Regions from separate parts of the Homo sapiens genome. Here region 2 is linked to region 1. The links come from fine-mapping of genetic effects on gene expression. Tissue or cell type: lung. Region 1 holds a variant in brackets; the other region holds the start of a gene. Each region is shown on its reference strand, or each on the opposite one. Region 1 has its middle 4.9 kb from the start of IFNA8. Region 2 holds the start of IFI6 (interferon alpha inducible protein 6).

Region 1 (2,917 bases):
CTTCTGTTCAGGTATTGCTTCATTTTGTTTTAGTTTTAAAGGAGGCTGCATTATAACCAAAATTTAAGAGATGTCTTAGATTGCACTGGCCTCATGGAATAATTTTCCCTGTGGAGTGATGACTTGCTAGGTCCTTAAGAGGAAACAGCAGTTGGCAGCTGGCACTAGAATAAGGCTTGTCCCTTCCAAAACTCTGCAGGCTACTGTGGTCTATCAGTGTCTCCCATGCTGGAGTCACTGAGGTTGGCCATGTCTCTGTGAGACGACTCTGTGCTTCAGTCTTCATCCACTTTCAATCTTCTCTCCCTCTCTATGATCAGAGGATCTGAACAGTTAACTCCATCTGCTCATTCACGTAGTTCCATCTCTTGAGGACCTGCCACTGTTGCAGTCAATGTTTTAAACATCTCTATTCTCCTTCCAAGATATCAGACTGCTCCTCTTTTTTTCAACTTCTTTGTGTTGTGATGTATTCTGTTTTTTTTTGTTTTGTTTTGTTTGTTTGTTTTTAAACAAATGAGAGTCCTATGTCTGGTGCAGTCTCCTCTTAGGGGAATCAGAACATGGAAACTTCTAAACATAAGAACAGATGAGCTCCTGCATTCTTTACCAGTTCTTTGGGTCATAAGTATGGGGGAAGGCCTCCTTCCATTTACTGCATTTTGTGGCCTGACTGGACATCAGTGGGTCTGGACCCCCCACAGCTCATGAATCACCTGGCAGGAGGGGTCAAAACAAGGTCATATTCACACTCTTGCTTCCAAGGCTCTAAAAACTTAGCTGTCTCCAGCTAGTGCTGCATGGTTAGCCCTTGCCAAGTCTCCATGGGAACTGGAGTGCTTCTCCATGCTCCCTGTGGCCCTTCTCAGGTAAACTAGATGCACCTCAGCTGGGTTGGGAGTGTAGGGGGAAGTAATGTTTGGCACTACAGAGGGACCTGAATGGGTGGGGCATCTCAGCACTCACTGCCCTCCAACTTCACTCTCTGTCCTGGTCCTCCAGACCCACTGCTTGATTCCTGACTACTGTAGAACACATAACTGGTTAATAACTCCAGGATATGATGCAAGATATGGCTATAGAGATTTCCAGGGCAAGGTGACAGTTTGGAGCCAAGTCATAAAACTTTTACAACAACCTGAATATAATTTTTTTAAAGCATTGAAAAAAATGAAAGAGGTTATAACATTTGAAAGACATTATGGAGGGTAGAGCAAGGTGGCTGAATGGAGGGCACCATCGATGGTCCCACCCTCTCGGTAGGAACATCAAGTTTGACAACTGTCTATGCAAAGGGAGCATCTTCATAGGAACCAAAAATCTTGTGAACACTCACAGTGTCTGATTTTAACTCTATATCACTAAAAGAGGCACTGGAGAGGGTAGGAAAGACAGTCTTGAATTGCCATCCCCACCCTGCCTCCATCCCTAGCAGCAGCCACATGGCATGGAGAATCTGTGCACTTGGGAGAGGGAGAGTACAGTACGTGTGAGACTTTGCCTTAAATTCATGGCTGCCCTCTGACAGCAGAAAGCAGCACAGGGCTGTACTCAGCTGTGCCTGCCCATAGAGGGAGCATTTGAACCAGCCCTAGCCAGAGGGAAATGTCCTATCCCAGTGATGGGAGATTGAGTTCCAGCAAACCTCCCCACCATGGACTAAAGGGCTCTGGGAC[G/C]CTAAATAAACTTGAAAGGCAGCCTAGGCCACAAGGACTGTAATTTCTAAGCAACTCCTAGTGCTGAGCTGGGTTCAGAGGCAGCGAACAGGAAGGGGGCGTGTGACCTACTGAGACACCAGCAACAAAGGTTAAAGGAGTACTTGCAACACTTCTCCCGTAACCCCAGGAAGCACAGTTCAGAACTCCAAATGAGACCCTTCCTTCTGCTTAAAGAAAGGAGAGGGAAGATGTATTACTTTGTTTTCATGCTGCTAATAAAGACATACCTGAAACTAGGAACAAAAGGTTTAATTGGACTTACAGTTAGTTCCACATGGCTGGGGAGGCCTCAGAATCACGGCAGGAGGTGAAAGGCACTTCTTGCATGGTGCTGGCAAGAGAAAAATGAGGAATTAGCAAAAGGAGAAACCCTTGATAAACCCATCAGATCTCATGAGACTTATTCACTATCACGAGAACACCATGGGAAAGACCGACCCCCATGATTCAATTACCTCCCCGTTGGTCACTCCTAAATTTCTCCATCCTCCCCTCTAGAGGACAGAAGAAGACTGCAAACAATACAATTTTTTGTAATTTGTCTAAGGCCCTGGTCAACTCCCAGTCTGAAAGCAGCAAATCCAGATGTTGAGTGTGTAGCTGGAGGAAAAGACTCAAGAGGCCCCTGTGCAGTTGTAGGCTCTCCCTCCCTGCTACCTCAGCAATTCACACACACTTCCTAGTGAAATAACTCCAGAATATATGGTGTCAATTATAGGAATGCCTCTCAATCTCTACCAAAATTGATACATTTGAATAAATAGACCTCGCCAGCTCTCAGGGAACAGTAATGCTATTCTTTCACATTCCTTAGCTTCTATGGGAATTCTTCCTTTTTCTAACTGGGCAGGGGTTTTACTGTTGAGTGGAAGAACTGGAAAGATCATTATTCAAAATGACAGTGAGAAAATGTTTTAATTTGTTAATGTTTGAACTCTGATATTAGGATTAAATCTGTGAAATTAAGATTGTACTGCTGGTTTAATGCACCATTAAACATGAGGTTTCTGTGAATAGTATTAAGTTCCAATACAAAACGGCAGCCCTACCTGTGCCCTGGAGTCCCAATGTATGAGGATGGGGTGATCCTGGGGAGTAGACTGTTCTGCACAGTAGGGTGGGCAGATATTACATCTCTGTGTCCCTATCACTGCGAATCCCAAGGAGTCCATGCCTTGACTGTACCTGGAAACTCATTC
Region 2 (2,917 bases), not on the chromosome of region 1:
AGGGAGCTCAGAGTCCTGTGGCGCCCAACTCTGTTTCTCTGGGTTTTCTCTTTGACCCATATATATGGCCTCATGGAGTGTTCCCAGCAACCAACAGATAATGGAGGAAAGGAGTCAAACTCAATTCACAGATAAGTCAGTATAATATTTTGGTATCAGCTGGAAACGGACCACTCTATTACAGCCCCATTTGGGGGTGGCACTGAATAATAGTGAATCCTCCCAGGGGGCAGAACTAGGAGCAGTATACCGTGTTGTTCCCTCTGTATGCAGAGAGAGAGAGAGAGAGATGGACTGAAGTACAGACATACACCAATTCCTAATAAGAGGCAAATGGCTTGGCTGGTTGGTCAAAGGCATGGATGGAACAAGATTGGAAGATTGGGAATAAGCAGGTGTGGGTTAGGGGCATAAGAATGAACTCTGAATGGGCATAAAGCACCTGGATCTCTATGTCTCATGTTAATGCTGACCAGAGATCATCTGCTGCAGAGGAGGCTCTACAGCCCAATGGCCAGGATGTCCCATCCTGTGGATGTCAGCCAGCCTCTAAACTTAGCCTCACTATTGCCTTGCAATAGACCTATGAGTGTCCAAGGTGGTAAGGATGGGGGTTAGAAATGAGTCCAACAACTTGGGCTCCCTCTCACCAAAACTGATCTGGCAATTGCCAAAATATAGCCAATCTGCCAGCAGCAGGTAGCAATATGGCAAAATTTCTCAATGAGAATAGCCAGCCATCTGGTGGCAGGTCAATTATTTCAGACCCCTTCCACTTGGGAGAAGGCAATGATTCATCCTTACTGGAATTTCTATGTTCTCCAAATAGAGGTTGCATTTCTGACCCATAGCACTTCAAGCATCACCATCCAAAGGCTTTAAAGAATGCTCAGTTCATTACCTAGGGCCAGGGGACCCATCTTGAAACTCAAGATCTATCATGATGGCCACATGAACACAGGCTTCACTGGTCTTACCATATGCCCATGACCCAGAAGCAGCCAGCCTGAGAGAACAATGGAACAAAGTGACTTAATTTCCAAAGTTCTGGGGGTTTATAAACAGCATATGGTATGTCACATGACTACTGTGGGATTGGAAAAAGATCATGTAAATAGAGCACTTTGCACAGACCCTGGCATGCAGCAAGTGCTCAATAAATGATAGGTGTTGTTTACTAATTGGACTGAATGGTGAAAGGCCTGTGTGCCCCAGGGGGAGCTGGTGATCAGGCTTCACTAAGCCCAGTATGGCCGTGGCTCTCATCATAGTGTGACATGCTTTGAATACCCTTAGCGGCTCCAAAAGTCCTCAGCTTGAAGTGCATTTTTCTGCCAGCAGGCAGCACACAAATGTTCCCGCTGGGCGGAGCTGGGAGAGAGGGGAAAATGAAACTCTGCAGAGTGCAGGAGCTGGGAGAGAGGGGAAAATGAAACTGCAGAGTGCAGAAATAGAAACTCCGACAGGGATTGGCTGCCTAGGGTGAGACGTGGGAGGATCCACAAGTGATGATAAAAAGCCAGCCTTCAGCCGGAGAACCGTTTACTCGCTGCTGTGCCCATCTATCAGCAGGCTCCGGGCTGAAGATTGCTTCTCTTCTCTCCTCCAAGGTAAACTCAGGAGCTATGAAGTGTGGGCATCAAGCTGCCACCCTCTGCCAGGCTGCCTGTCTGCCTGTAAATCTCATGTTCTGAGAGCCAGGAGGCCCCTTCTCCTGGGAGGCAGCACTCCTGGGTCCCTTTTAGTGCTCTGGGCTGGGACTTGTCTAAGAGGATGGGTTGGAGATTTTTAGGGAGATGGGATGCAAAACCCCAAGTGGCATGAGACCCAGCTTACAGGTGCAATATCAGCGATCTGTGGCCTTAACACTGTCACCTCTTGGAGCCTTAATTACTTCCTCTGTAAAAGGAAAGTTAAGTTGCCTTTGCTGCTCAAAGGACTGGATGATTTTAGAATCCCCTTTATTATAGGATCCAATGTGACAGTGAGTTCATCTTTAAGGATAGATGAAGCCATCTGGAGTGGTTGTTAAAAATGTGGGCTTGGTGGCCGGGCGTGGTGGTTCACGCCTGTAATCCCAGCACTTTGGGAGGCCGAGACCCACGGATCACGAGGTCAGGAGATCGAGACCATCCTGGCTAACACAGTGAAACCCTGTCTCTACTAAAAATACAAAAAAAATTAGCCGGGCTTGGTGGTGGGCGCCTGTAGTCTCAGCTACTCGGGAGGCTGAGGCAGGCAGGAGAATGGCATGAACCTGGGAGGTGGAGCTTGCAGTGAGATGAGATTGCGCCACTGCACTCCAGCCTGGGCGACAGAGAAAGACTCCATCTCAAAAAAAAAAAAAAAAAAATGTGGGCTTGGGTATTAGCCAATTGTGGGTTTAAACCCTGACTTTGCCATGACCTGGCTAGGCAGCCTTGGGAATATTACTTAACCTCTCTGAGCTTCAGTTTCCTTATCTATAACATGTGGTTGATAACAATGGTACCTACTTCGTGGTGTTGTTATAGGTACAAGTGGACTGCGTGCCATAAAGTGCTAAGTACTCAATACATGAGAGGAGTTTCTTGTTTTTCTTTTTAACTTAAGAAAATAGCATTGATCTGACAAAGATCATATTAGAGGTGAGTCTGAGGGCATATGCATTTTCCAGTTTTGTGGTATAAAGGAAAGAGCATAGGTTCATGAATTCTGACTGTCTTGAATGTGTACCCATGTTGCACAATTTGCTGTGTGACCTTTATCCCTTGTGATATTGTAAAATATATTTTTTCATCCCCCAGTTCCTGGCATACAACTCCTAAAATCCTTGGAATCTTCAAAGTGATAAATATCTTTTGAGTGATAACTGTCTAATAAGTTGACTGATGGCTGGCATTTCCTCTGGGGAGGGGAGAGGGGCTGAAGGTTAAGC

What was found. PIP is the estimated chance that this variant, and not a neighbour inherited with it, causes the effect.
Region 2: it holds the start of IFI6, and the variant in region 1 is the best candidate, but not a certain one, in a credible set for the expression of IFI6 in lung (TOPMed, PIP 0.62).

The regions. Positions count from the first base shown.
Region 1 is chr9:21,412,564-21,415,480 of GRCh38, reverse strand. No RefSeq gene overlaps it. Among named protein-coding and RNA genes, the nearest start is that of IFNA8, 4.9 kb to the right of the region's middle. The variant G/C (reference allele first, on the strand shown) is at 1,677.
Region 2 is chr1:27,670,816-27,673,732 of GRCh38, reverse strand. IFI6 (interferon alpha inducible protein 6) reads left to right here and starts at 1,541. Exons shown (of 5, transcript NM_002038.4): 1 at 1,541-1,610. RefSeq lists an enhancer at 1,170-1,509.